Linked DNA regions of Homo sapiens. The protein of the gene in region 1 purifies or fractionates together with the protein of each later gene. This does not show direct contact. Each region holds a gene or a part of one and is shown in the gene's direction. Other genes may lie near its edges. The genes, in order: RC3H2, CNOT1, DDX21, CNOT7, UPF1, IGF2BP1 and CNOT9.

The links.
Region 2: the proteins of RC3H2 (region 1) and CNOT1 purify together in Homo sapiens (affinity purification with mass spectrometry; 2 studies listed by BioGRID, with this or other methods). This does not show direct contact.
Region 3: the proteins of RC3H2 (region 1) and DDX21 purify together in Homo sapiens (affinity purification with mass spectrometry, with the first as the bait; 2 studies listed by BioGRID). This does not show direct contact.
Region 4: the proteins of RC3H2 (region 1) and CNOT7 purify together in Homo sapiens (affinity purification with mass spectrometry; 2 studies listed by BioGRID, with this or other methods). This does not show direct contact.
Region 5: the proteins of RC3H2 (region 1) and UPF1 purify together in Homo sapiens (affinity purification with mass spectrometry, with the first as the bait; 2 studies listed by BioGRID). This does not show direct contact.
Region 6: the proteins of RC3H2 (region 1) and IGF2BP1 purify together in Homo sapiens (affinity purification with mass spectrometry, with the first as the bait; 2 studies listed by BioGRID). This does not show direct contact.
Region 7: the proteins of RC3H2 (region 1) and CNOT9 purify together in Homo sapiens (affinity purification with mass spectrometry, with the first as the bait; 2 studies listed by BioGRID). This does not show direct contact.

Annotation. Positions count from the first base shown.
Region 1 is NC_000009.12:122,852,882-122,857,629, reverse strand, and holds part of RC3H2 (roquin-2), read left to right. Parts: intron 1-1,751; coding exon 1,752-1,898; intron 1,899-2,232; coding exon 2,233-2,446; intron 2,447-3,014; coding exon 3,015-3,099; intron 3,100-3,363; coding exon 3,364-3,445; intron 3,446-3,543; coding exon 3,544-3,678; coding exon of another isoform or gene 3,679-3,756; exon of another isoform or gene 3,757-3,836; intron 3,837-4,748. UniProt on the Homo sapiens protein: Post-transcriptional repressor of mRNAs containing a conserved stem loop motif, called constitutive decay element (CDE), which is often located in the 3'-UTR, as in HMGXB3, ICOS, IER3, NFKBID, NFKBIZ, PPP1R10, TNF and in many more mRNAs.
Region 2 is NC_000016.10:58,538,190-58,542,937, reverse strand, and holds part of CNOT1 (CCR4-NOT transcription complex subunit 1), read left to right. Parts: intron 1-369; coding exon 370-510; intron 511-602; coding exon 603-707; intron 708-1,317; coding exon 1,318-1,437; intron 1,438-2,978; coding exon 2,979-3,170; intron 3,171-4,023; coding exon 4,024-4,166; intron 4,167-4,671; coding exon 4,672-4,748.
Region 3 is NC_000010.11:68,962,670-68,966,169, forward strand, and holds part of DDX21 (nucleolar RNA helicase 2), read left to right. Parts: intron 1-621; coding exon 622-800; intron 801-2,707; coding exon 2,708-2,825; intron 2,826-3,500.
Region 4 is NC_000008.11:17,232,710-17,237,457, reverse strand, and holds part of CNOT7 (CCR4-NOT transcription complex subunit 7), read left to right. Parts: intron 1-84; coding exon 85-246; intron 247-2,597; coding exon 2,598-2,742; intron 2,743-4,748. UniProt on the Homo sapiens protein: Has 3'-5' poly(A) exoribonuclease activity for synthetic poly(A) RNA substrate. Its function seems to be partially redundant with that of CNOT8.
Region 5 is NC_000019.10:18,862,351-18,866,484, forward strand, and holds part of UPF1 (regulator of nonsense transcripts 1), read left to right. Parts: intron 1-1,087; coding exon 1,088-1,262; intron 1,263-1,819; coding exon 1,820-1,901; intron 1,902-2,938; coding exon 2,939-3,100; intron 3,101-3,210; coding exon 3,211-3,428; intron 3,429-3,693; coding exon 3,694-3,813; 3' UTR 3,814-3,816; intron 3,817-4,134. UniProt on the Homo sapiens protein: RNA-dependent helicase required for nonsense-mediated decay (NMD) of aberrant mRNAs containing premature stop codons and modulates the expression level of normal mRNAs.
Region 6 is NC_000017.11:49,045,885-49,049,384, forward strand, and holds part of IGF2BP1 (insulin-like growth factor 2 mRNA-binding protein 1), read left to right. Parts: intron 1-5; coding exon 6-137; intron 138-375; coding exon 376-489; intron 490-3,467; coding exon 3,468-3,500. UniProt on the Homo sapiens protein: RNA-binding factor that recruits target transcripts to cytoplasmic protein-RNA complexes (mRNPs). This transcript 'caging' into mRNPs allows mRNA transport and transient storage.
Region 7 is NC_000002.12:218,571,201-218,575,948, forward strand, and holds part of CNOT9 (CCR4-NOT transcription complex subunit 9), read left to right. Parts: intron 1-4,748. UniProt on the Homo sapiens protein: Component of the CCR4-NOT complex which is one of the major cellular mRNA deadenylases and is linked to various cellular processes including bulk mRNA degradation, miRNA-mediated repression, translational repression during translational initiation and general transcription regulation.

The DNA of each region.
Region 1 (4,748 bases):
TCATGCCAGCACTGTATTAGTACATTTGCATAAAGCTATTTTATTTAATTCTCACAAAAACCTTAGGGGGCAGGTATTTTCCATATTTTACAGGGTAGGAATCTTACAGAAGTTAAGTAATTTGCCCAAGATCTTTCAGCTGTAAATAGCTGGGATATGAATCCTGGGCTGTCTGAGGTATTTCTTCCCTACTTAACAAGAAGTGCAGAAATACCTACAGTATTATTTATGCTCTTTACATCACTGCTAATTATTGTTCTTGGCATTACCAAACAAGTTTGTGTACCAGGATGATTTTAATTTAATCTGGTGTTTTCAGTACTGTTATATTTGGAGAAAACCATTAATTTCTTTTTTAAGTTTCTTCTGGTTTATTCCCCATCCCCAGAAGTTCTGATATTAAAATTTTTAAAATCTTTTCATTATAAAAAATTTCAAACATATACAAGTATAGAGAGAATAATATGATAAACTCCATGTACCCAACACCCAGGTTCCACGGTTATCAACTCAGTCAGTACTGTCTTATTTATACCCCCTCTTCCCCCTGGATTGTTTTGAAGTAATCCTAGGCATTATATTTTTTAACCCATAAATATTTCAATAAAGCATTGAATTTTTAAACTAGATCCAAATAGGTCTTGTCAAACTTAGACTTCTTCAAAGCAGGTAAATATCTTGACAACAGAGTGACAGAGCTGCCACTTGCTTGCTAGATGCCACTTGCTTGCTAGATGCCACTTGTATTTTCTTTTTTGATATACAATTATGCTTCAGGAAATGAGTATTTCCCTGAGACTCCGATCTGCTGAGTTCGACTTGAGAAAAGTTTTTTAACTTTTTTGCCCTTGAGTTTTTTTATCTGAATAATTAGTAAACTAGATTTAATGATTCTTATAACTTTAGTATTCTGGTCCTATAAGTATTCCTTATTCACAGTCCCTTTAAAATTTATTCATTTCCCCTTTATCTCCAGAGCCTCCTTTGAATTCCTTTTGTTCTTTGATACTGCATAATTTATCAGTTATATTCCCTTATTTGCACATGTTCTTTTTCTCAAGAAAATTATAAACTCAGCTTGGTGTAGTGGCTCATGCCTATAATCCCAGCACTTTGGAAGATCGAAGTGGGTGGATTGCTTGAGCCCAGGAGTTTGATACCAGCCTAGGCAATATGGCAAAACTTCATCTCTACTAAAAATACAAAAAGATTGTCTGGGCATAGTGGCGTGTGCCTATAGTCCCAGCTACTTGGGAAGCAGAGCTGGGAAAATCACCTGAGCCTGGGAAGTCGAGGCTGCTAGTGAGCTGTGATCACCCCACTGCATGTTAGCCTGGGCGGTGGGAGTGAGACCCTGTCTCAAAAGAAAAAAGAAAATTATAAACTCCTTTAGGATATGGACTGTGATCTCTGTGTGTATCTATGTATTTGTTTTCTCTTACTTTTTTTTTTCTTGGTGCACCCCATACCATGTTAGTACCATACTATAAATATTTGTTAATTGGTTTTGATAGTATTAGTCAAATGTTCCATATGAGCACTTAAAGGACAAAGTGAAAAGGGAAAGCATGCCATTTTCTATTGTAAAAATACCATTTCTTGCTTATTACAGTTTTTTATATTAGTTATTGAAAAAGTATAATTGTTTGCTATGAAGTCCTCTGAATTCTATAATAGTTACTTTATATTAGTTACAAGCTTGTAAATTTAAGCTTCTTACTAATTGGCTTTATTTATTTTTTTTTAACCAGTTCTCAGAGAGTGTGAGTGGTACAAAATTTGAAGAAGATCATCTTTCCCATTATTCTCCCTGGTCTTGTGGCACCATAGGCTCCTGTATAAATGCCATTGATTCAGAGCCCAAAGATGTCATTGCTAATTCAAATGCTGTGTTAATGGTATGATTTTGCTGGGGTTGCAGGGGTTGGAGGTGAGAGATGATGCATGTTCACTCATGTTGTAGAATGAATGTTTTCTATTCATTCATTCATATTGTTGCCTTATAACTCAGTAGCAGCAGGGTTATATTTAGGTAAGTCTGAAATAAATTATATTTAATATTTAAGTTATTTGAACATTGGTGGTTTACTGGTAGTTTGTTGGATTATCGTTGAGTCTAGAGCTAGTTTTAAATTAACCAAAAAACCTAATTACATGTCTTTTGATAGCATATATTTACTAGCTGAAGTAATTGCCAACAGTCCTTTTATTGATTTTCTTTGGTTTACATAGGACCTGGACAGTGGTGATGTTAAGAGAAGAGTACATTTATTTGAAACCCAGAGAAGGACAAAAGAAGAAGATCCAATAATTCCCTTTAGTGATGGACCCATCATCTCAAAATGGGGTGCGATTTCCAGATCTTCCCGTACAGGTTACCATACCACAGATCCTGTCCAGGCCACTGCTTCCCAAGGAAGTGCGACTAAGCCCATCAGTGTATCAGGTAATCCATTTAGATAATACCTAGCCTGATATGTTCTAAGCACTATGCCTTTTTTTTTTTTTTTTTTAATTGAGACAGAGTCTCACTCTGTTGCCCAGACTGGAATGCAGTGGTGTGATCTTGGCTCACTGCAACCTCCATCCTGGGTTCAAGCGATTCTCCTGCCTCAGCCTCCCAAGTAGCTGGGATTATAGACATGCACCACCATGCCTGGCTAATTTTTGTATTTTTAGTAGAGAGTATTTTGTATTTTAGTTTCGCCATGTTGGCCAGGCTGGTCTGGAACTCCTGGCCTCATGTGATCCACCCGCCTCAGCCTCGCAAAGTGCTGGGATTACATATGTGAGCCACTGTGCCTGTCCTAAGCACTGTGCTTTTTAATCCCCAACTTGTGAAATGGAAAACATTTCCCTCCATTTAACAACCATGGGAAACTCAGAATTAGGTGTTTAACCAGCATCATATGGCTAGTGGGATAAAATACAGATCTATTTTGAGAAGTATACATTCACCTCAGTACACTGATTTTTCACTTTTTTGACCATTGTTTCATTCTACATGTCTGTAGATTATGTCCCTTATGTCAATGCTGTTGATTCAAGGTGGAGTTCATATGGCAACGAGGCCACATCATCAGCACACTATGTTGAAAGGTAACGTTCTTCTTAATTCTATATGATTCTCCATTCTCAGACTTGTATGTATCTTAAGGGTACACATTCTACCCCCAGTTCATGAAATGTGCTTTGCTTGTTGTCTGAGCTATATAACAAATTTCTGAAAAATATTTGCATTTAAATTTGGAACGATGAGTGAAGTTTTCAGGGTTGATCTGTCACATAAAACATATGGTTATTACTGCTTTTGTTGCTTCATTCACTTCACTTTTATTACAATAAACATATTTCTCTTTAAAGGGACAGATTCATTGTTACTGATTTATCTGGTCATAGAAAGCATTCCAGTACTGGGGACCTTTTGAGCCTTGAACTTCAGCAGGTAGGCTCTGTAACTCAGCTATAAATTTTTGAGAAATAGAATGACAGTTGAAAGCTATAGTTGGAAGCTAACTTTTCTTTTTTTCCCTCCTCATATAGGCCAAGAGCAACTCATTACTTCTTCAGAGAGAGGCCAATGCTTTGGCCATGCAACAGAAGTGGAATTCCCTGGATGAAGGCCGTCACCTTACCTTAAACCTTTTAAGCAAGGAAATTGAACTAAGAAATGGAGAGGTAAAGAAACTGAACCTTTCGGCTTCATGCTTAATGTATTTGTTTTCTGCTGCTGCATCTTGGTTATACCATTACTGAGTGCATTTTGGTGTGCCTATCTCTGATGGATGATTGATTGCTTTTAAAACTTATAACAGAAATAAAATTGTAATCCCAGATTTCTTAAATAATTCTTTAACTAGATCATCGGGATTTTTGTTTTTTTGAGATGGAATCTTGCTCTATCGCCTGGAGTGCAATGGCACGATCTTGGCTCACTGCAGCCTCTGGCTCTCAGGTTCAAGCGATTCTCCTGCCTCAGCTTCCCGAGTAGCTGGGATTACAGGCACCCACCACCATGCCCAGCTAATTTTTGTGTTTTTAGTAGAGACAGGGTTTCACCATGTTGGCTAAGCTGGTCTTGAACTCCTGACCTCAAGTGATCTGCTCGCCTCACCTTCCCAAAGTGCTAGGATTACAGGTGTGAGCCCCCGTGCCTGGCTGATCATTGGGATTTTTTACTTTAATTTAAAAGGGAAACCCCAGGTTCCACAGGTATAAAATCAGTATTTTTCTTTTTTTTTTTTTTTTTTTATTGATCATTCTTGGGTGTTTCTCACAGAGGGGGATTTGGCAGGGTCATAGGACAATAGTGGAGGGAAGGTCAGCAGATAAACAAGTGAACAAAGGTCTCTGGTTTTCCTAGGCAGAGGACCCTGCGGCCTTCCGCAGCGTTTGTGTCCCTGGGTACTTGAGATTAGGGAGTGGTGATGACTCTTAATGAGCATGCTGCCTTCAAGCATCTGTTTAACAAAGCACATCTTGCACCGCCCTTAAGCCATTTAACTCTGAGTGGACACAGCACATGTTTCAGAGAGCACAGGGTTGGAGGTAAGGTCACAGATCAACAGGATCCCAAGGCAGAAGAATTTTTCTTAGTACAGAACAAAATGAAAAGTCTCCCATGTCTACTTCTTTCTACACAGACACGGCTACCATCCGATTTCTCAATCTTTTCCCCACCTTTCCCCCCTTTCTATTCCACAAAACCGCCATTGTCATCATGGCCCGTTCTCAATGAGCTGTTGGGC
Region 2 (4,748 bases), on another chromosome or scaffold:
TATTTTTTTAGTAGAGAAGTGGCTTCACCATGTTGGCTAGGCTGGTCTCAAACTCCTGGCCTCAAGTGATCTACCTGCCTTGGCCTCCCAAAGTGCTGGGATTAGAGGTGTGAGCCACCGCGTCTGGCCTGCTTTACTGATTTTAAGGCATGTTCACAATAAACTGATAAGGTGTCTAGGATATTTTTGTCTTAAAAGTGAGGAAGCTGTTAAGACTGTTTCAAGATCACAGCTTGTTCATAAGTAGAGTCAGAACTTAAAATGCATTTGCCAAATGCACTGCATTTTCTACTATCCTGTCTGTCCACATCAACTTTCAAGTCTTTTTCCTTCTATTCCCCCCACCCCCCCACCCACCTCCATTAATAGACTGCTTCCCCACAACAAAGAGAAATGATGGATCAGGCAGCTGCTCAATTAGCTCAGGACAATTGTGAGTTGGCTTGCTGTTTTATTCAGAAGACTGCAGTAGAAAAAGCAGGCCCTGAGATGGACAAGAGATTAGCAACTGTAAGTGTTTAGAATTTGCCTTTTAAGATTTTCTTTTTTAATTTAGGGAAGTGCCTTATAACAAGAACCTCAGTGACTTTTTTTGTTTGCAGGAATTTGAGCTGAGAAAACATGCTAGGCAAGAAGGACGCAGATACTGTGATCCTGTTGTTTTAACATATCAAGCTGAACGGATGCCAGAGCAAATCAGGCTGAAAGTGAGAATTGGGGCTCTGTCTTTCCCCGTCCCATCTTTGTTTTATTTTTAATGTTGTTGTTGATTGAACTCCTTACTGGAATTAGGACAGCAGGGTTAAATATTGTTTATGAGAAAACATCTTAACTTGATAGCATTTCACTGAATGGCTGCCTGTGGAGGAGGTATGGAAATAGCTCTAAATTCCCTTGCTCCTCCAGAGTTGTTGAAGTGTTATTACTCTAAGGAGTTCATGTGCCTGCTAGTTTTCATGTTTCCCAACTTGGGCTTCTCACATTAATGGTTGCTTATTGTTCCCAGTGAGACAGTGAGAAATCTGATAATATTTACCAGCTTCAAGGGAGAATTGCACTGGCATCGTCCCATGTGAGGCATTTTCCAAGAGAAACTCTCAGTTAATTTATAAATGAGGTGACTCTTAGCAGGATTCAGGGAAATGAGAAGCCCTCTTCTGAACTGCATTTGTGTGTGCGTGCATGCTTAATCATGCTGTTATATGTTGTAATGACTCTTGTGTCCCTGAGCTTACCCACATGCAGACTTTCCACTTTCAAAACAGTTTATTTTGATTATTGAGTGAATTCTGTCAAAATAGGTTTTCTTCTTTCAAGGTTGGTGGTGTGGACCCAAAGCAGTTGGCTGTTTACGAAGAGTTTGCACGCAATGTTCCTGGCTTCTTACCTACAAATGACTTAAGTCAGCCCACGGGATTTTTAGCCCAGCCCATGAAGGTAAATGTGTTTTAGATTAAATTGAGTGTTTTGCCAATTAATTTAAATGTTTTTGACATTTAATATATGTTTTTGACTTGCTTCCTGGGAGAATAATTTACAGGGGAAAAAACACCTATAGTTTTTGAGTTGTAGGTATTCTTTGTGTCCAATTAAGTATGACATACAGGGGATTAAAGAAAAATTGACATGGGTGTGGGTGATTTAACTTTAATGTTCGGCCTAATTAGGGGAATTCTCATGGTAACATAATAACTTTCGGTTTTTTATTTTTAAATTTTATTATTTATTTTTTTGAGACAGGGTCTTTCTCTGTCACCCAGGCTGGAGTGCAGTGGCGCGATCTCAGCTCATTGCAACCTCCACCTCCCAGACTCAAGCGATCCTCCCACCTCAGCCTCCTGAGGAGCTAGGACTACAGGCGTGTGCCACCATGCTCAGCTAATTTTTGTATTTTTTGTAAAGATGGGGTTTTGCCATGTTGCCTAGACTAGACTCAAACTGCTGACCTCAAGTGATCGCCTACCTTGGCCTCCCAAAGTGCTGGGATTACAGGCCTGAGCCATTGTGCCCAGCCTTCCCATTTTTTAAATAAAAGAATTTTCTAAAATTTTCAAAGGTGTTTACAGAAAACTTGGAAATATAGGGAAAAATATTTTCCCCCGAACCGGTCGATAGTAAGTTGCTGACCTGATACCCCCATCGCTCCTGAATCCTTTGGTTTGTATTTCTTACAAAACCTTTTTCCTTTGGTTTGTATTTCTTAAAAAACCCTTTTCCTGTGTGACCATGGTACAACCATTAAGGTCAGAAATGAATACTAATAACCTTACTCCATCTAATTCATAGACCTCACTCGAGTTTCACCATGTATCCCAATAATGTATAGTAAAAGACCTGTTTTAGAATCACACATTTCTTCAGTTGTCATATTTTTAAAGTCTCCCTCAGTTCTAGCTGGTGTAGGTAACTCAGTTTTTCCTCATCTTTCATGACCATAACACTTCTGAATATTATAGGCTAATTATTTTCTAAATGACTTGATTTGTTTGTCCAGTGTATTCTCATGACTAGGTTCAGGTAATGTGTTTTTAAAAATAGGAATAGCTCAGAAGTAATGCTGTATTCTTACTCTATCCTATCAGGCTTTGACAGTTGGACTGAGTACTGTATTTTTCATGGTTTGAAACACTTACTTTCTTAGGATATAGAGGGCTTAGTAGATGGTACAAGTGGTGCTGCCCTCAGTCTGTCTCATTGTTACTAATGCTCTCTTTTATCACTTGATTATGCTGCTGTCTGCCAGGTTTTCCTCTCTCAAATGAAACACCTCTTCCCTTATGCCTGCCTTGTACTGTGCCACTTGATGGTATTAATTCTGAATAGCTCAGGAAGAAGGAAAAGAAGAGGCCCTCCATGTTTGAATGTAAAAATAAGAAAAAGGGAGTAAACATACTAGTAGACCTCTATTTGATACATGTGTCAATAAAAAACCTTAACATTCTTTTGTCTCTTGTTGGTTGTTTCCTTCTGTAAAACAGCAAGCTTGGGCAACAGATGATGTAGCTCAGATTTATGATAAGTGTATTACAGAACTGGAGCAACATCTACATGCCATCCCACCAACTTTGGCCATGAACCCTCAAGCTCAGGCTCTTCGAAGTCTCTTGGAGGTTGTAGTTTTATCTCGAAACTCTCGGGATGCCATAGCTGCTCTTGGATTGCTCCAAAAGGTTGGTTCTTAAGCTATTACTTTTAGAAAATGCTAGGTGTGTAAACATTTATTGACCTGCACCACCATCTACATATTTATGCAGTTATGCTTAAGATTTCATAATATAAATCAAGTTCTGTAAGTAGGTGATTTTTTTTTTTTCCAACGTAGAATGTAGTCATGGCAGTTTTGAATGGTAAACTTGGAAATCTTCATTTTTTTTCTTAAAGATATTCTGGAAATGTGATTTGAAGAAACTTTAAAAGGTAGCCCTTTAGAGGGGTGTGTGTGTCTGTGTGTGTGTGTGTGTGTGTGTGTGTAAGAGACAGGGTCTCTCTCTGTCAGGCTTGAGTGCAGTGATGTGATCATGGGCTTAAGTGAACCTCCCACATCACCTTCTCGAGTAGCTGGTATTACAGGTGCTCACTGCCAAGCCAAGCTAATTTTTAATTTTTTTGTAGAGACAGGTCTTGCTTTGTTGTCCAGGTCGTTCTCAATCTCCTGGGCTCAAGTGGCCCTCCCTCCTGAGCCTCCCAAAGCGCTAGGATTATAGACATGAGCCACTGAGCCCAGCTGCCCTTTAGATTTTGAGGGACAAGTTGATCCAATAATTTGGATCAGGGTAGGTAGGGAGCCCTGGATTTTAACTACAGCAGAGCCTTTTATGACAATGAAGAGCACAGAATGAACTTAAATCAGATAGAATTTAGAGTGTGTGTGATAGGCAACTGAAAGGGATGTTTGGAGAGTGGAAAGGACAGGGAGGCTTTGGAAGGTATTTGGTACTTGGCATTGAGATTTGGTTTCTGGCTGTGATAGTTGGGCCAAGCACTGTATTTTTCATGGTTTTGAACGCTTTCTTTCTCCCATAGGCTGTAGAGGGCTTACTAGATGCCACAAGTGGTGCTGATGCTGACCTTCTGCTGCGCTACAGGGAATGCCACCTCTTGGTCCTAAAAGCTCTGCAGGATGGCCGGGCATATGGGTCTCCATGGTGCAACAAACAGATCACAAGGTCAGTAGCCATCTTCGAAAAGTAGTGAGTATTGGACTGCGACTGCCTTTTGACATAGATAGTACTGTTTATGTCCAGGGGTTTCCCTTTTTTCTAGTAGGTAGGTCGGACACTTAGACTTCCTACTTCTGAGAGGTGAGAATTGTTAAGTAGTTGTTTTCCATCTGGTCTCTACCTTCTCCCCATGTTGGATATAGAAAACCAGTACCTTGTTTTGGGGAATAAATTGTAGGTCATTGTTTTAAAAGGTTACAGTGATTTCTCAGAAGTGGTATTCGTGTATAAGTATTTTAATGTCTTAAATGGAATACTCTGTATCCTAGGATTTGAAAGGAAAGCTTGGGCTATCTGTTCTATTTCATTACTGGCTGTTTTTAAATTTGGACACTGATTTGGAGTTGAATCTCAAGGCATTCTTAGTTTGGAGCAAATTTCCATTGAGTAAAATGGGCCCTTTTACAGTATGGTTAAGCCTATATGAGTAAAGATATTGAACTTTTTCTAGGTGCCTAATTGAATGTCGAGATGAATATAAATATAATGTGGAGGCTGTGGAGCTGCTAATTCGCAATCATTTGGTTA
Region 3 (3,500 bases), on another chromosome or scaffold:
CTGGTGAAATTAAGCAATTAGGTGATGCCATATTAATGTTTTATCTCTTTCACTTCTGAGGCATCTCTAGATTAATGAGCCTAATTTATAGGCATAAACCCAGAATTCATTTAATAATCTGCTTCTGAAGTAGCTGGAGTCACAGTTACTCAAGTAGGTGCTTCCTAAATCAGGAGCAGCACAGTTGGATTGCAAAGCACCAGATTTTCAGGCTTATGGATGAGACTTCAAATATTTACTATAATTGGATGCTTTAAAGTTTGTTGATATTTTTCAGTCAAGCAGATTCTTTACTATCAGAATATTTCTGAGCCAGGTATGATGGCTTGCACCTGTAATCCCAGCTGTCCATCAGGCTGAGGCAGGAGGATCACTTGAGCCCAGGAGTTCAAGGCTGCAAGTGAGTTATGATCACACCACTGTACTCCAGCATGGGCGACAAAGCAAGACCTTGTCTCTTAAAAAATATACGTATTTGAGCCTAACTTTGTAGATGTTGACCAGAAGGTAGAATTCCTTAATTCTGCAGGACCAGAAGCATGAGTAGTATACTTCAGTATGTCAGTATGGCTAATGTTTTAAGAATTGCAGTGTGAGATAACACAGTTAATTTGTTCATAGGCCGAGGAGTGACCTTCCTATTTCCTATACAAGCAAAGACATTCCATCATGTTTACAGCGGGAAGGACTTAATTGCACAGGCACGGACAGGAACTGGGAAGACATTCTCCTTTGCCATCCCTTTGATTGAGAAACTTCATGGGGAACTGCAAGACAGGAAGAGAGGCCGTGCCCCTCAGGTAACTGTCTTAAATACAAGGGCTCTCAGTCAGCATAGGAAAAACCACCACTTGGGCATTGTGTACATACCCTACTATTTTTTATTGAGTTCTTATAGTCACCCATTCTATTTACTGTGGATCTTTATGTGAAAGTAATCCAGGACAATTCTTTTATATTTAATAATTAATATATACAGATCATTCTCTGTATATTTCAATATTTTAATCTTTCCCACAGTTTTGATCATCTATATAATTAATGCTATCATATTTCCTTCAAACCATTAGATGTCCCTGGGGCTCATAGCTTTCGTCAAGTGTCTGACCATTTTTGCCTAGATGGAGAAAGCATTTTTGGTAGAAAAGCATGAATGGGCGGTGGCTCACACCTGTAATCCCAGCACTTTGGGAGCCCGAGGTGGGCGGATCACGAGGTCAGGAGATCGAGACCATCCTGGCTAACAACATGAAAGCCCATCTCTAATAAAAATACAAAAAATTAGCCGGGCGTGGTGGCGGGCGCGTGTAGTCCCAACTACTTGGGAGGCTGAGGCAGGAGAATGGCGTGAATCCAGGAGGCGGAGCTTGCAGTGAGCCGAGATGCACCACTGCACTCCAGCCTGGGCGATAGAGCAAGACTCCGTCTCAAGAAAAAAAAAAAAAAAAAAAGAAAAGCATGAATGGAAAGAAGGGCAAGTCAGAGGTGAAAACGCCAAGCCCCCATATTAGGGTGAGTCCATTGGGTTCATTTCTAGAGAACTTGACATTTAACAAACATTAACCTCATTGAAATGACTGCGAATGCCCATGTAGTCACTTTGGCTGTGGGTTCTTGCAGTTGTCTTTCTGGCCTAACCTCACTTGCTCACTGGCCTTCCAGTGTCCATGCTCCCCCTTTGTTAATTTGTTTACTGCTATATCCCTAGCACATTTTAGATGAATGTATTAGGTGTTCTTGAATCATATTAGTTTCATACCATTACCCTATTTTTGAGGACCTGTAGCAGTTCAAGCAATTCTCCTGCCTTAGCCTCCCAAGTAGCTGGGATTACAGGCGTGTACCACCATGCCTGGCTAATTTTGTATTTTTAGTAGAGATGGGGTTTCACCATGTTGGCCAGGCTGGTCTGGAACTCCTGACGTCAAGTGATCCACCCACCTCAGCCTCCCAAAGTGCTGGAATTATAGGCTTGAGCCACTGCACCTGGACTTTTTTTTTTTTTTTTTTTTGAGACAAAGTCTCGCTTTGTCGCCCAGGTTGGAGTGCGGTGGTGCAATCTTAACCTCTGCCTCGCAGGTTTAAGTGATCCTCCCGCCTCAACATCCCAAGTAGTTGGGATTACAAGTGTGAGCCACCACGCCTGGCTCATTTGTATTTTTAGTAGAGATAGACTTTCACCATGTTGGCCAGGCTGGTCTTGAACTCCTGACCACCCACCTTGGCCTCCCAAAGTGCTAGGATTATAGGCATGAGCCATTGCGCCTGGCCAGCAGTTTCATGTTTTATATATATATAGATCAAATTCATATTGCTCTAGGATTCAAAGCCCCTTACATTGTTGGCTCTACCTTACTTCTCTGATTTTGTTCTGCTTCAAATTTTCTCTACTGTAGAGGTTAAGACTATAGGTTTTGGATCCCAATTGCTTGAAGGCTCTGCTCCTTCTTAGCCTTTGGGGTTTAGTCAAGTTATTTATCCTCTAATACCTAGCTCAAAAGGTTGCAAGAATTGAATCAGAATAATATATATAAAGAATTTAGTAGAGTCTCAGATCTATTAGACAAAAATATTAGATAATGTTATCGTCATCATCAGCGTTAGACCTTGTTCAAGTCGTTCTTTTCCTGGAATGCTGTTCTTTAAGGACTAGATTAAGAAACAAATACTACACAGTAATTTGAATTCAATTATTTTTCTTTATCAGGTACTGGTTCTTGCACCTACAAGAGAGTTGGCAAATCAAGTAAGCAAAGACTTCAGTGACATCACAAAAAAGCTGTCAGTGGCTTGTTTTTATGGTGGAACTCCCTATGGAGGTCAATGTGAGTACATTCAAAAAGTGAGGGAGGTATAATGCCACCCATTGTTGACTGCTCTGATTGGATTTCTTTTCACCTTGACATCTGGCTTCTCTATATAGGATAGTCGTTTATGGGGATTTTCTTTTGCCATTGTTTAAACATGGTCAAGAACATGGTCCTGCTTGATGATAGGCAAATCCTGTATATCGTTCTTAGGACTTTTATCTATTTATATTTATCTAGGGGCTACAAAAGTAATTTATTATTGAACCCAAAAAGACAGTCCATTTGGGCTCTAGGAAATAGGAAGTCAGAATTCAAGGTTCCTCTTGTCTGTCAGGACCTTGGGTCTGTCCCTCTTTCTGCATGGTTGCTTCTTTCTTGATGTAGGCAGGCTTTCTTTCCTTGGGGCTCAAGGGCCAAATGTTAGTCTCTACTCTTATATTCCATTACTTCCCAGTTCAAGGCCTTGGAGCTTTATTATTAGAGCAGATGTATAAATTAGGAAGGGATTTAAGGAATTTAAAAAAATCATAGTTTTGGCCAGGCGCAGTGGCTCACGCCTGTAATCCCAGCACTTTGGGAGGCTGAGGCGGGCAGATCACAAGGGCAGGAGATCGAGACCATCCTGGCTAACACGGTAAAACCCCGTCTCTACTAAAAATACAAAAAATTAGCCGGGCGTGGTGGCAGGCA
Region 4 (4,748 bases), on another chromosome or scaffold:
ACTGTAGTTATAGATGTAAGCAGAAGAACAGCTTGTTTGAAGTAATGGCATGTTTGAATGTTGTCTTTCTCTTTCTTCTGCCAGGGAGGACATGTATGCCCAGGACTCTATAGAGCTACTAACAACATCTGGTATCCAGTTTAAAAAACATGAGGAGGAAGGAATTGAAACCCAGTACTTTGCAGAACTTCTTATGACTTCTGGAGTGGTCCTCTGTGAAGGGGTCAAATGGTTGTCATTTCATAGGTAAAACGACTACATTGAAAATGGCATTTGTTTTTCCATCTCATACTTGCTCCACACTTACTTGGGTCACTATGTTAGCAATTTCAGGTTTAATTCTGGAAAGAGTTGACTGCCATATAGAGTTGTCTCCTAACTCTTAGGAGGCTAATGTTGGTCTGCTTAAAGGTTAATTTAAAATATGGGATCCATTTTTGCCTGTGAGAAGCATGTTGCATAGTGGAAACAGTACAGGTTCTCTAAAAAGTGAAAGACCCTGGTTTAAATCCAGCGGCGCCATTTGGAATTGGTGTTACCCAGGGTTTTCTTTTACTATTTCTACACCTTAGTTTTTAATGTTCTACGGGGGAAACCATTCACTTACATTTACACAACGTTATTGAGTATTTACCATATGGCAGGCACTGAGATGAGATTCTAGGAACTAAGGTGTGAATAAAACAGATGAAAATTATTTTCCTCATGGAGTTTATATTCTCATGGGGGTGGGCAGACAGTTTTTAAAAATGGAGTTCACGTTGTGATTTGTTAGATAGTGATAAGTACTATCTCAAAACAGCAAAGAAAATGCTAGGGATGGGTGTGGAGATGGATTTTAATTTTTTTTTAAAGTGATAAGGCATCCCTTAGAAGAAATAGCTTGAAGACTTGTTTTAATGGTCACCAAAATACTTTATAAACAGTAAATTCTCAATAAGTGGTGGTTCTAAATTCTTTATTGTTATGAAACTAGATTATTTAAGAGTGTTTCTGGTAAGGAAACTATTCCGATTTTGTGAAATAGACTTCCAGGTATGAAAAAGAGTTTTCCCATCTAAGTAAACTAAACTGACGTTCCAGGGACTAAAAGTAACCTTCAGAATGATATTGGCTTTTGTTAGGTTTTGAAAAAGCATTGTGTTACATAGATGTTAATACTCTCATACTTGGTCCACTTCACACATGTATCTTAAATCTGAGTCTCCTGCATGTTTAGTTTCTGTCTCTGATCTGTGGGATGTTTATAGTGAAGGACTGTTCATGTGGGCAACTTTGATGTGTACTAACCAGAAATGGTTGAGTTGTAGGTACTGAACACACTCATTCTTACCTATCATCTTTTTTGTCTCTTCTGCACTTGAACTTGTACCTTAGGAAACATAACTTAAGACTCTTGATACAAATACCTTTTTTTTAGTCATTTTTCTTCCCTAGATATGAAGGTGCAAAAGAACTGGAAAGTATTGCCCTTCCCTTTTACTGTATATGACATACCCTTTCATTTAAAAAATACTCTGACAAAATACAGTGCACTAGGCACTGGGTATTAAGATGAACAAAAACAAACAGGGTTCATTCATGTCTTCTTGGAGTTTAGAATCTAAGTTAGACTGATATATTTGAATATTTATCAAGATAGAAGATTTTATTCCATTAAATATCATTAGTTGTTTTCCTCATATTCTAATTTCAAGTAATGAAGAATAGTTTAAGAAGTTTATAAATCCTAAGCGCTAATATAATCTTTTAATGTTAGTGAGCAAATGTCATATAGGCTTCCTGTTAGAGGTCCTTGGAAGGAAAGGTAGACAAGGGACGGACGTGTCTAAGTGGCCTGGGAGTGTAGGGAGACAGAAAGCTGTGCGAAAGGCCGGACAAAGGGAGAAGAGTTCTGGATTTGAGAGTGTAGGAGTTTGCATTTTATGATCAAGAGAGTAGTTATTTTTTTACTACCCTTCACTTCTTCCATGTGCAGCATTTCCATTAATAATGACTCTTAGGGAGCCACACTGAAAGGAAGAGAATTGTGAAGGAAGAAAAGGGAGAGACTACTTAACACAGTCATTTAAGAGAAGTGAAAATACCTTGTTACAGTCTTATTCTTTGGATAAAGTATATGACCACCTTATGTAAAAGTGGGATGACTTGCATTACTTTTGTCTACCGAATGCCAGTTCTCTTGCTACCTTTGCTAACTCTTCTGGCCAAGTTTCCATTCATCTTTATTTCTCCATTTCCATAGTTACTTTAAAAAATATTTTGAGACATCTGTGGGCAGCTTGATACTCTTCTTGGTGTTCTCTATTCAGATATCAACAAAATAGTATTTTATTGACCATAGGCTGGTTTGGTAGTGTAGGTCTGTGTTGATATCTCTGAATAATAAAGTGATAAAGTTCTTAATACTGTAAGATGACGACATTTTCTCATAGTTCTCAATATGTTTGTTTTCTCTGTTCTTGTGTGCACTTCTCTTTAATGTTTTTGGGAGGGCTCTAGTGTGACTTGCTTAAATTTGAATCAGAAAAACTTTTTTTTTTAATCTTTATAGTATTTATATGTCCCTCTTCTCTATTCTTTTAACCCTTTTATAGCGGTTACGACTTTGGCTACTTAATCAAAATCCTAACCAACTCTAACTTGCCTGAAGAAGAACTTGACTTCTTTGAGATCCTTCGATTGTTTTTTCCTGTCATTTATGATGTGAAGTACCTCATGAAGAGCTGCAAAAATCTCAAAGTAAGGCTTCGGATGGCATTATCTACAGCAGCACACTGTTCAGACCAAGTGACTGTCATGCGAGCCTAGGCTGGGATGTTGTTTTAAACCATATTTTAAAGTATTACAGTGAATGCAATTATATTATCTGGTCATGTGATTTTTTTTCTTGCATACATAATTTGTAGGGAATCCTTTTTTCAGAGCTTCAGTATGTCTTGGCAGAAGGCAGAATTTTCAACACATTTCAGGCTTAGGTCCGGTTCTTGTCACTGCTTGCCAGATTGAAAATCACAAACCAAAACACAAATCTGAGGACATTGAGGCTCTCATATGCACGCCATTGTGAGTTGTTACTTTCTCCCAAGACGCATAGAATCTGTTCTTACAAGGTGGAATCTAAGGTGGCCAGCGATATGCAGATGTATTTAGTAGTGTGGCAAAAGTTTTTCTTTCCTTTTGGCTTATCTTGGCTAGAAATTATTTTGTCAGTTCTAGTGATAGGATAATGCTCCTAGGATTAAACTATATAGCTAAAAGATTTTTCTGTGGCCAAAAGATGTCAGCTTGTTACAGTTAAGTACTATGGGAAATGTGTAGGTCCTGCCTAGATAGTAGTAACATTTTGACGCTGCATAACATGTATTTTTAAATTCTAAACATTAATTCTTTTTTTGTTTTTGAGACGGAGCCTTGCTCTTGTCGCCCAGGCTGGAGTGCAGTGGCGTGGTCTCGGCTCACTGCAACCTCCGCCTCCCGGGTTCAAGTGATTCTCCTGCCTCAGCCTCCTGTGTAGCTGGAATTAACAGGTGTCCATCACCACACCCAGCTAAATTTCGTATTTTTAGTAGAGTCGGGGTTTTACCGTGTTGGTCACGCTGGTCTTAACAGATAACTGAAGATGAGAAGCTTTCTTTTGGCCAGTGTTTACCTTTAATACATGATATGGTCAGCATATGACTAGAGAAATTTTCAAGAAAGATTATTTTATGTTTGTAGCAGTAGACTTCTGTGTAATTTGAGGGGACTTCCAGGAAGTGAACTTGCAGTAGGGTATCCCTTGCTTGAGAAATTCAGCCCACCCTGTGAAAGCACTGCATGCTGAGGCCTACATGTTTTCATCTGACTTTTTTTTTAATTGACATGTCTGTATAATGATAGTTTTCAGGAACAGGGAACCAAATTATTGCTCATCATGTGGTTGTTACTGGGAAGTTTCTAAGTACAGATATTCTGAATGTGTCCTGAGTAAGCTGCTGTGTTAAAATTCAGGTTAACGACAAAGGTGCTTTTTGACCTATAGTCAGCCATGCTGTTCTATTCAGTTCTAGTTCTGTTCTCCTAAGCAGCTGCTAACGATACCTAATCCTCGTGCTATTTTTAGCGCAGAAGCAACTGCTGTGCAAAGCCTTGTTTCAAGCTGTGATGCACAGAAGGGCCATTTTGCCGGTGGAGGCCTTAACAAGTTAGAGAAGAATTTTTGTTTTGTTGTTGGTGTTTCTTTCCTTCACGCTCTACTTATTCTCCCCTCCCTTTACTCTCCTTGCCTGTCCTCCCACTTTCTTTCCTTCTGTTACTGTCTTTCTCTTTCTTTCTTTCCACTCTTTCCACTCTCATCTTTCTTTTTTAATCTTAGGAGTATTAACATAGGTGGATTATAGCAGACCACTCTAAGGAGTTGTGTGCATATACTCGTCTTAACTAAGAAAACCATAGTGAAGCATTTAGCATACTCTTAATGATTATTCATAATGGCTTTGTTTTGTAAAAATTAAGTGAAAACTACAAATGGATGGTGGGAAGTTTAAGAAAATATGAAAAAAATGGTGTTATACTAGCTTTTCAGTTTTATAATTATTACTGGATTGATAGACTATGAGTGTACTTGATAAATATTACCCTATATGTGGTCTGCTTCCTTCCCATATCTAGGAGAGTATTTACCTGTCATATGCCCTAAAACATGATGAAAATACATTTTCCCAATTAGGATCTTGTTTTCTATTAAATGATACTTTTTCCGCATT
Region 5 (4,134 bases), on another chromosome or scaffold:
GGACGTATTTTTCCAGGCCCTTCTGGTCTGATTCAAAATAAATCTTGTGTGTGTCTGTCAAGTTGTTTAATCTGAGAGGCTGTAAGTTTTGGTCCTGTCCACTATTTTTGGTTCTAAAATACAACTTTTGTGAACTGATGATAGCAGAAGGGACCCCGAGAACAAGGTGTCCATTCTGTCATCCCACATAAAACTAGACATCAGGCCAGGCATGGTGTCTCACACATGTAATCCCAGCACTTTGGGAGGCCGAGGCAGGTGGATCACCTGAGGTCAGGTGTTCTCGACCAGCCTAACATGGTGAAACCTCCTCTCTACTAAATACAAAAAAATGAGCCGGGCGTGGTGGCACATGCCTGTAATCTGAGCTACTTGGGAGGCTGAAACAGGAGAATCGCTTGTACCTGGGAGGAGGAGGTTGTGGTGAGCCGAGATTGCGCCATTACACTCCAGCCACTGGGCAACAAGAGCAAAACTCTGTCTCCAAAGGAAAAAAAAAAACACTAGACAGCAAGGACCCATTCACCAGCTGGAAGTTGGGGGGACCTGGCCTGTGGCTCCACCCAGCACAGGGAGAGAGCCTGGTGCTCCTTCCGGCTCATATGCGCGGTGGTTCTCCTCTAGGTCACCATGGCTTTGTCATTGGTTACTCCCTCTTTCTAAGGCGCCCTCTTGTTTGGTGGGCAGTATTGGGTGGGTCCCCCCACAGCTTCGTGAGGTGGGCTAGAGGAGCTGGGCATCGGGTCAGTGCCCCGGCCTGCTGGGGGCCCTGTGGGGCCGCGTGTGCCCCGGTGCCTGGAAGGCCGACTCTCTTGACAGCAGGTCTTCTCTCCAAACGTATCCACCCAGCCAGGTGTCTGCCATGGGGCTGCTTAGAGTCGGCCACAAAATCAACCCGTGTGCAGGGTCAGTGGCTTGGCATTGGGCTTTGGGGCCTGTCCCTGTGGCTGGCAGCCTGCCTGCTGCCCGGTCCACGCCTCTGTTGCCTTGGATTTGGGTTCTGAGTGAATGCAGCCTTGCCTCTTGGACCGTCCTGTGAGACGGGCAGCTCTCCACCTGCGTCCTCAGCACTGCGCCCTTGTTGCAGGTATGGCGTCATCATTGTGGGCAACCCGAAGGCACTATCAAAGCAGCCGCTCTGGAACCACCTGCTGAACTACTATAAGGAGCAGAAGGTGCTGGTGGAGGGGCCGCTCAACAACCTGCGTGAGAGCCTCATGCAGTTCAGCAAGCCACGGAAGCTGGTCAACACTATCAACCCGGTGAGCGCCTGCACAGGACAGCAGGGCAGCACGGAGAAACCCGGGCCCAAAACACTGCTGGGAACGTGCCAGCTTGGCCCGTGTGCCCGTGAGCTGAGGGAGGGCTCTCCTAGGGGAGGGTGGGCTCTCCTAGGGGAGGGTGGGCCAGCCCACTTCTTGTCTCCCGAGCCGTGTGTGGCATTTTTGGCTTGGGGCCGCTAAGTCCTGGGTGGCCTCTGGGAATTGGGCTCAGGGCTGCTGTGCTGCATGCAGCAGCCTGGGACCTTGGACACGGGCAGTTGGAAGCTTTGCAAGCCCGGGGTGATCTGGTAGTGAGGGGGTGTGAAGCTTCCTGAGCTGAGGCCCAAGGGTCAGCATCAGAGCCCAGGTCTGCCGAGGAGGGCAGGCGAGACCCAGAGGCCATGAGACAGCAGCTCCCTCCTGTCTCCAGGGAGAGCCCCTGGCACAGTGTCAACACCTCACAGCTGCATACCTGCCACCTCCCAGGCCACCGGGCCCGTGGGAAGTTGTTCCTTCTGTTGAGATGACAAATTCCTCACCTATCTAAACCTTCGCAGGGAGCCCGCTTCATGACCACAGCCATGTATGATGCCCGGGAGGCCATCATCCCAGGCTCCGTCTATGATCGGAGCAGCCAGGGTGAGTCGCTCAGCAGGGGACCTGGCCGACCCCTTGTCCTCACACCGGGATGCTGGCCGTTCCCATGGCTGCAGCTTTAGGTGCCCCCATCTTTCCTTCCCCTCAAGGGCGGTGCCTGGCTCCCTTGGCCTCCCCGCCCCTAGGGCATCTCTAGCCCCGGAACACTCCTGGGGTGTTTGTCTTTAACCAGAGTTTATTCATTTGTGTTTCCTGGTGATCAAGCTAGTTAGCTTTTTCTTGCCTTTTGGTAGGGCAGGGACTGCATGTAGTACAAATAGAACATTTTCATAAAAAGGATTTTTTTTTTCCTTTGGTAAATGCAGGGTGATTTTCATTTATTTTCTTTTTTTTGTTTAGAGACAGGGTCTCCCTATGTTGTCCAGGCTGGTCTCAAACTCCTGCCTCAAGCAGTCCTTCTGCTCAGCCTCCCAAAGTGCTGGGATTACAGGCGTGAGTCACTGCACCTGGCCAATTTGCAGGTGTTTTTTTTTTTTTTTTTTTTTTTGGAGACCGAGTCTCGCTCTGTTGCCCAAGCTGGAGTACAGTGGTGTGATCTTGGCTCACTGCAACCTCCCCCTCTGGGTTCAAGCGATTCTCCTGCCTTGGCCTCCCGAGTAGCTGGGATTACAAGCACCCACCACCATGCCCGGCTAGTTTTTGTGTTTTTAGTAGAAACGAGGTTTCGCCATGTTGGCCTGGCTGGTCTCAAACTCCTGATCTCAGGTGGTCCACCTCGGCTTCCCAGAGTGCTGGGATTATAGGCTTGAGCCAACACGCCCGGCCCCAATTTTCAGTTTTTAAGATCTGTGTAGGCCAATGATTCCCAGCAGACTCTCCTCGGGGAAGGTGCCTGCCCAAGCACCCAGCCCCAGGCAGGCTGCTGTAGTTAACATGGAGTCCTGCGAATCCGCATCTTCAGCCTGGGCAGAGCCAGGACAGATGTGCAGCTCCGGCTGACTGGCTGGTGGGGTGGGTGGGGTATCGCTGGGGTTTGACCGAGGCAGGTGACACCTGCCGTGTTCCACTGTGATTTGCAGGCCGGCCTTCCAGCATGTACTTCCAGACCCATGACCAGATTGGCATGATCAGTGCCGGCCCTAGCCACGTGGCTGCCATGAACATTCCCATCCCCTTCAACCTGGTCATGCCACCCATGCCACCGCCTGGCTATTTTGGACAAGCCAACGGGCCTGCTGCAGGTGAGCATCTGTGGCTGCGGCTGGGTGTGGCCCTCCTGAGAGCTCTTGAGGGTGTGCTTGTCTGCGAGGCCCTGGCCTCCTTCGGATCACCCTGGACTGCTGTCTTTCAGGGCGAGGCACCCCGAAAGGCAAGACTGGTCGTGGGGGACGCCAGAAGAACCGCTTTGGGCTTCCTGGACCCAGCCAGACTAACCTCCCCAACAGCCAAGCCAGCCAGGATGTGGCGTCACAGCCCTTCTCTCAGGGCGCCCTGACGCAGGGCTACATCTCCATGAGCCAGCCTTCCCAGATGAGCCAGCCCGGCCTCTCCCAGCCGGAGCTGTCCCAGGTGAGCCCGCCCCTGGGACGGGACTTACCTGAGTGAGGGTGGGGCTATGCACCTGAAACATTCCCTCTGAAGAGCCCCAGAGAGCTGGCCTGGCCCATGTCCACTGTCTGAATTACCTGTCCCTGGGCTGGGGTCATCAGAGTGGGTCTCCTGGGTCTTAGTTTGGGGACGGGTTTTCCATTCTTTTCTCTGGGGCTGCTGAGGGCTGGGTGGATGTGAGCACCCTTGGCCTGTGGCTTGCTTACCTCCTGACCTTGTCTTTCAGGACAGTTACCTTGGTGACGAGTTTAAATCACAAATCGACGTGGCGCTCTCACAGGACTCCACGTACCAGGGAGAGCGGGCTTACCAGCATGGCGGGGTGACGGGGCTGTCCCAGTATTAAAAGGCAAGCCCCCCTGGAGCAGGCCTGGCCCCACCCCAGCCTCAAGGAGAAGGATGGGAGGGGGCTCTCCCCAGGGAGCTGCACTGGAGGGGTGGTATCTGGAAATGTGTGCTGTGCCTGGTGGGGGTCATAGGCCCTCAGGGCCAGCTTGGCCTGTGCCCTTCACTGCTAGTCAGGGTGGCTCCTCACCCCACCCTACCCCATCCTGTCTGCTCCGGGGACCACCGCGGGACCTCAGTTTCCTCATCAGAGTCGGGGAGGGCAGCTCGGGCTCTCCCTCACTGTCCTGTGTGCTGGGTACCTGTGGGGCTCAGGTCGCAG
Region 6 (3,500 bases), on another chromosome or scaffold:
CTCAGGCTCAGGGAAGAATCTATGGCAAACTCAAGGAGGAGAACTTCTTTGGTCCCAAGGAGGAAGTGAAGCTGGAGACCCACATACGTGTGCCAGCATCAGCAGCTGGCCGGGTCATTGGCAAAGGTGGAAAAACGGTGAGCTGTGAGGGCCAGGTTGAAAGCCCTGGGCCTTGGTCTCCAATCTCAGCAGCTCTCTCTGGTCTCCTGTACTGCTCAACCTCAGGACTCCTGATTTGCTCATTTACTTGATTCTACTCCCCAAGCTCAGGTCCTGACTCTTCCAGGTTCTCCCCACTAGTCACCCTGGCTCCTCCCTCCAACCCCACCCATGCTTTCTTGATGGCACCCTGAGCTCCTCTCTGGCCACCCCCAGGTGAACGAGTTGCAGAATTTGACGGCAGCTGAGGTGGTAGTACCAAGAGACCAGACCCCTGATGAGAACGACCAGGTCATCGTGAAAATCATCGGACATTTCTATGCCAGTCAGGTACATATGGTGCTCCCCCATTGAGGGAGGGCTGCAGGAGCCCAGGGAGCAGAGAAGCAGAGACTCTATAGAGGTTGACCTTCATGACGTTGACAAGTCCTGGGGCCTCAGCCACATCTGCCTGCCTCTAGGCTAGGTTATTGCCCTCTTTCAGGTGCAGAAGTGGGATGTGTAGATGACATATTACCTCTTATTACTCTCTAGGAAAAGTGATTTGACAAGTTTAATGTACATATATTGTGTATAACATTATATATATAAATAACATATATATGAATATATATTATATGTAAATATATATATATATGTTCTACGTTAGTCCCTCCCTAACCCCTTTCTGCACTGGTTAAGAAAGAAGATTAGTTTTGTTCATGGAATAATGATAACAGTACTAACACCCTGGATTGATGGCATTTTTGAAATGTAGTCCCTCTGCCTTTCGCAGAATGGCTGTTCTCTCCCTGGTTTCTGCTCTTCCACCCTCCCATTCCTTTCCCAGAACTCATCATTGCCGTTCAGCACTCGGACAGGCTCCAGAGCATGGAAGGGAAGGCCAATATCAGGTTCAAATTTTGCTGAACCTCAGCAAGGCAAGCAAACAGGTGGTTGGCAGCTAATGGTGTTTTCCTAAAGTCTTAAATCCATCATTGTTAGAACTGGAAAGGAACTTTGGAGACTGTTGATCACAGTTCCTACAATTCATAGAAGATATCCAGATCTTAGCAGGCTTGTGGTCTGCTGGGGCTGCTAGAGCAATTGGGGCAAACTGGCTCTTGGTTTTTTGGCTTCCAGTGCCCATATAGTATAGCATCAAGTATGAAGGTTTTGGATCCAGGGAGCTTTGACCTCAAACTTCACATACATAGCCTTTCTGCTATGTGACCTTGGATAAGTAACTTTCTCTGATAACCCTTTGAGAAGTATTAACAAGAGGCTTTAGTTACATCTCAACTATATATATATATAAAATAACAAAAAAGTATTAATAAGAGCCATAATAATAATAATATCTAAGATTTATCGATGCCTTTGTATACCCAGCACTGTTTTATGTGGCTTATGTATATTAACTCATTTAATTCCCACAACAATTTCATTTTATAAATGAAGCTTAAGAGGGTAAATGTGAATCTTTAATTCAGCGTTTTTTTTTTAAAGAGAGTAAAGGATACCTCCAAAGATGCATAAAGCCAGGATATATTAATATTAAACACTGAAGCAATTTTAGCTGATCAGAATGAGAATTAAATGAAAAGCTATGTAAAACATCAAGCCAGGGTTGATGGAGTTGGACCTCTTATTGACTTACACATTATTTTCCCAACCTAGATCAACTTCCTCTTTTTTTTTTTTTTTTTGTGACAGGGTCTCGCTCTGCCATCCAGGCTGGAGGGCAGTGGTGTGACCACAGCTCACTGCAGCCTCTACCTCCCAGGCTCAAGTGATCCTCCCACCTCAGGCCCCCCAAGTAGCTGGGACTACAGGCAGGTACCACCACGCTCAGCTAATTTTTGTATTTTTTTGTAGTGATGAGGTTTCACCATGTGGCCCAGGCTGGTTTCAAACTCCTAGGCTCAAGTGATGTCACTGCTTCAGCCTCCCAAAGTGCTGGGATTACAGGCATGAGCCACAATGCCCAGCCTCAGCTGCTTCTTTAACCAGGAAAGGAAGCACTCATTTATGGAAAGGAGACATTCTGGTCTTCATTCTATGAAGTGAATCCCATTTTGCAGTTTATTTCCTTTATAAAACTTTATTCTTAGGGAAGAACCTTTTAAGAAGGAAATAATAAAAGATTGGGTATTTTGTCCATTTTTACAGTGAAGCTTATGTATTTATGCTTTTTGACTAACCCATATCTGGACTTTATTTTTTATTTTTACTTTTTTTTTTTTTTGAGATGGAGTCTCGCTGTGTTGTCCAGGGTGGAGTGCAGTGGCACAATCTTAGTTCACTGCAACTTCCGCCTCCCCTGTTCTAGTGATTCTCCTGCCTCAGCCACTCAAGTAGCTGGGATTACAGGCGCACGTCACCACGCTCGGCTAATTTTTGTATTTTTAATAAAGATGGGGTTTCACCGTGTTGGCCAGTCTGCTCTCGAACTCCTGACCTCAGGTGATTCACCCGCCTCAGCTCCCCAAAGCGCTAGGATTACAGGCATGAGCCACCGTGCACCTGGCCATATCTAGACATATTATTCCTTTTCCTGGGGTATTAAAATGAAGCGTGGATTTGTGATGATGTCTTCTAAGTTACGACCCTCTACAACAGGAGTCCCCAAACCCCGGGCCACGGACTGGTACCGGGCCACACAGCAGGAGGTGAGCGGCAGACGAGTGGGCATTACCTCCTGAGCCCCGCTTCCTGTCAGATCAGGGCGGCATTAGATTCTCATGGGAGGGCTAACCCTGTTGTGAAGTGCTCGAGGGATGCGCAGTGCATGTGAAGGATCTAGGTTGCACACTCCTTATGAGAATCTACTGCATGCTGATTTGAGGTTTCATCCTGAAACCACTTCCCCACCCCCACCTCCATCCGTGGAAGAAAAATTGTTTTCCATGAAACCAGTTCCTGGTGCCAGAACAGTTGGGGACCACTGCTCTGCAATATGTAATATATTTCTGCCTAGAAACTCTAGGCATTCTGTTTTGCGTTTGGTAATGTTTATCAACTTTGTCAAGTTTTAAATTCTGATGAATGGATTGATACTACTGTTTCTCCTTCCTTCAAGTCCCCCAACCCCATCTCCCACTTAACACCCACCACGTTTGCTGTATTTTCCAGGGGATACTCAGGCTCCACTGGAGGCAAAGAAATGTAAGGTCACCCCAACCCTCATTCTTCCTCTTTATCTTTCTTCTGAGTCCTGTGTGACCTGTTCTGTTTATTGCCTGTGTCTGGACCTGATGACCTCTCTTCCGTGGAAGGCTGTCTCCTTGGAGGTCTCACACCCACTCTCTTGCCTGTTCTTGCTGCAGATGGCTCAACGGAAGATCCGAGACATCCTGGCC
Region 7 (4,748 bases), on another chromosome or scaffold:
TCTCTTTTTTAAAATAGTAGGTAAATCATCATTTCAGCTAGGGAGATAACAAAGTACTGCCAAATGAGAATGTAAGCCGGGTGGTGTGTGCCCATAGTCCCAGCTACTTGGGAGGCTAAGGAGGGAGGACACTTCACCCCAGGAGTTCCAGGCTACTGTGTGCTATGAAGGCACCTGTGAATGGCCACTGGACTCCAGCTTGAGCAACATAGCAAGACTTTGTCTATTAAGAGAGAGAGAGAATGTAGTCACATGTAAATGCAGGATATTATTCACTAGAAGGAAAAATTAAGATAGTATGGGAAGTATCTTAAATTTTGACTCTTGAGTAGTCGTATGCTAGAAATGTTTAGTGTAGTAGGCTTTTGTGATTCTTTTTTTTTTTTTTGAGATAGAGTTTTGCTCTTGTTGCCCAGGCTGGTGTGCAATAGCGAGATCTCAGCTCACAGCAATCTCCGCCTCCTGGGTTCAAGCAATTCTCCTGCCTCAACCTCCCAAGTAGCTGGGATTACAGGCATTAGCCACGACGCCTGGCTAATTTTTTTTTTTTTTTTTTGTATTTTTAGTAGAGATGGGGTTTCTTCATGTTGGTCAGCCTGGTCTCGAACTCCTGACCTCAGGTGATCTGCCCGCCTCAGCCCCCAAAGTGCTGGGATTACAGGCATGAGCCACTGCGCCCGACCTTGCTGTTGTCATTCTTGATGGAATACATCCTAACATCTTCATATATTCATTACCGCTACCATTGAGCATAATTTCTTTTTTCTCTCCTCTAATAAATAAGGACAGAAGTACCACACAGGATTATTCTAAAGATTAAGTAAGAATAACAAAATGCGGCCGGGTACTGTGGCTCATGCCTGTAATCCCAGCACTTTGGGAGGCCAAGGCGGATAGATCACCTGAGGTCAAGAGTTCCAGACCAGCCTGGCCAACGTGGTGAAACCTCATCTCTACTAAAAATACAAAAATTAGCTGGGCATGGTGGCAGGCGCCTGTAATCCCAGCTACTCAGGAGGCTGAGGCGGGAGAATCACTTGAACCCAGGATGTGGAGGTTGCAGTGAGCCAAAATCGTGCCATTGCACTTCAGCCTGGGAGACAAGAGCAAGACTCCATCTTTAAAAAAAAATGAAAGAAAGAATAACAAAATGCTCAGTGGTTGGCTAGATTCACTCACTGATATGTGACTTGTTCCCAGACTTCAGCTTTGGGAATTTAATTCCCAAATTAAAGGCTCACACACCTATAATCCCAGCACTTTGGGAGGCCAAGGCAGGAGGATCACTTGAGGCCGGGAGTTCAAGACCAGCCTTGGCAACACAGTAGGAACCTATCTCTACAAAAAATGTTTAAAAATTTTCCAGGCTGCAGTGAGCCATGATCATGCTACCGCACTTCAGCTTAGGCGACATAGTGAGACCCTGTCTCAAAGGAAAAAGAAAACTACAAATCTTTGCATGCCATAGGTATTCTGTAATGGATGTTATGCTTGTGAAACAACCGGAGGTAAGCCTTTAGGGGATGTGTTTTTGTTTTGTTTTGTTTTTAATTTCCCACTGATTTCCACTGACAATTCTAGCATCCCTAAACACTTGTCTTTCTCTCACTTTCCGCCTAACCAGCAGCATCATTAGTTATTTTACATCTTTTTATTGAAGCTGTCATGGACTGCCAGATGCCTTCCTTTTTGGCAAGTAGAAAGAACACTGCACTCTAAAGGATTTAATTCACTTTCTCCTCCCGAGTCTCCTGATGAAGCTTTAGGCAAATTGCCTAACTTATCTTTCCTTATTCACTTTCATTTTTTAAAAGTTATTTTGAAAAAATACATTCTGGGCCGGGCATGGTGGCTCATGCCTGTAATCCCAGCACTTTGGGAGGCTGAGGCAGGTGGATCATAAGGTCAGGAGTTCGAGACCAGCCTGGCCAACGTAGTGAAACCCCGTCTTTGCTAAAAATAGAAAAATTAGCCTGGCGTCATGGCATGCGCTTGTAATCCCAGCTACTTGGGAGGCTGAGGCAGGACAATCGCTTGAACCTGGGAGGCGCAGGTTATAGTGAGCTGAGATTGTGCCATTGCACTCGAGCCTGGGCAACAAGAGCGAAACTCCATCTTAAAAAAAAAAAAAAAAAAAAGATACATTCTGGCTCTTATAAAATTATGAAGGTAAGCTAATTTAGTACTTCCAGCACTATTAGAAAGTTCATTTTCTTGGAATACCATGCTGACACCCAAATCCACGTGTTGATCTCCAGACTTGGGAAAATAATCTCTATTTCAGTCTGATTCCATTCTTTATGTATTGGCAGGAAAATAAACAGCTATTTTGGCCCTTAAACATAAAGTTACATTGATAATTTGGCTATTTTCTGTTTAAGAAACCATCAGCATCAATTTTTTAGTTTACTCAGAGAAGGAAATCATTTTCTTTACCATTTATAGATAAATGTCATGTTTTATTTAAAATAATTTATAAACATCTTTATACTTTTCACATTATGTGTTAAAATCTTTCAGAAATAGAAGACCAACTTAAACTGTCAGTACCCTGTGTGACACTTGGAGTTAACCATTGGTAACTTACTTTGGTAAATACCTTATCTGTATGTTAAGCTTTCTTGGGGAAAAAAGGTGTCATTTGAAATACATTTTCCATATACAAATCATTAAACAGAAAAGGAGGGAGAGTTACCACCTAAATTTTGATAATATGAAAGTTTTTTAACACACTTATTAAAAGAACAGGACTGTTGACTTTATTTTTTTATTTTATTTTATGTTTTTGAGACAGGATCTCGCTTTGTTACCCAGGCTGGAGTGCAGTGGTGTGATCTTGGCTCACCGCAACCTCGACCTTCTGGGTTCAGTCGATTCTCCCACCTCAGCCTCTTGAGTAGCTGGGATTACAGGCAAACGACACCACACCAGGCTAATTTTTGTATTTTTAGTAGGGGCAGGGTTTCACTGTGTTGAAACTCCTGACCTCAAGTGATCCACCAGCCTCAGCCTCCCAAAGTGCTGGGATTACAGGTGTGAACCTGTCTCTGTGCCTGGCCAGGACTGTTGACTTTAGCAGGTTACAATTAATAATCTACGGTAATGTACTATAGAGCTTTTTTCTATTCTTGGAAGTGTTAAGGATAACTCATAATCTAAATCAGATTTCTCATGATGATTCTATGTGTCCAGGTATGTAATTGAGCTCACTGTGTATCCAAATCCAGCTGTTAATGAGTTCTGTGCTAAGGGAATATTAAATTTAAGAAAGTTTTTTTGGGTTCTTAAGAGTAATTTCTTCAACTTGGAGGAGTATTTGTGCTTTCTATCCTTGAGACCAGATAGAACTCATCGATTCTAGAGAGAAGTAGAGTTTCAGTCTCATTCTGCTGTACACTGGCTGTGTGACCTTGAGCACATTAAACCTCTATTAACCTGTTTCCTCTTAGAATTTTGAGAATAAAATGATGTAATCCACAGTGCCTGAAACATGGTATGCTCAATAAATATTACTGCATATTAATAATTTCTGGAAAAGGCAGACCTAATCTATAGTAGCAGAAAACACCCATGATTGCCTCAGGCTGAGTATGGGGTTTACTGAAAAGGGCATTAAAGAACTTTTTGGGGTGAATGGATCTATATCTTCATTATGGTAGCAGTTACTTAGGTGTATAAATTTCTCAAAAATCTATTGAAGCGTACACTTAAAATGAGTTCACTTTTATTGTATGCAAATTATACGTCAAAGTTTTTTTTTTAAAAAAAGAGCCTCTTAGATTAGACTCTCACAACTAAGAACTAAATAATTTCTAAGATTTTAGAGTTGCCTGAGACTGACAATTATTTAATATAGTTCCTTCACTTTAACAATGAGAAAATTGAGGTTTGGAAAGTTAAATGACTTATCCTAGGTCACACAATTCTAGAAAGAGCAAAACTGGATTTTGAAGTCACTTCAGGCTCCCACGCCAGTGTGTGTTCCAATTATATACACATGTAGTTCCTTGCAAATTGAGGTCTTTCCTGTTCTTCAATTTGATAAACAGATTCTTAATCCTGGGTACATGGATACATTGCAGGAACTCTGTGAACTCCTTAAAATTATGTGTAGGTTTTCGTGTTTTTGCAGTTGTGTATTTTTCTGAGTAAAAGATCCACAATTTTCTTTTTTCTTTTCTTTTTTCTTTTTTTTTTTTTTTTTGAGATGAGTCTTGCTCTGTAGCTCAGGCTGGAGTACAGTGGCTCAGGCTGGAGTACAGTGGTGCAATCTCCGCTCACTGCAAGCTCCGCTTCCCGGGTTCACGCCATTCTGCCTCAGCCTCCCAAGTAGCTGGGACTACAGGTGCCTGCCACCACACCTGGCTAATTTTTTTGTAGTTTTAGTAGAGATGGGATTTCACCATGTTAGCCAGGATGGTCTCACACTCCTGACCTTGTGATCCTCCCACCTCGGCCTCCCAAAGTGCTGGGATTACAGGCGTGAGCCACCGTGCCGGACTTCATTTGATTCTTAAAGGGTCTGGGCCTCAAAAAATGTCAACCTCTGCTCTCTTGGTTGGTATCCTGCAATTATTATTAATGCTTCAAATAAGGTAATTTCCAGTAGAGAAGTCATAGATTAATTTGCTTGCCTGTCAGTGAGCAATGTGTGCTACTAGATTGAGTTCCATATCAGCCACAGCCTTAGAAATGTATTAGTAAATTAAAAATTCAAAGAGTTGTAGCATCTGAACTAGGAATCATTA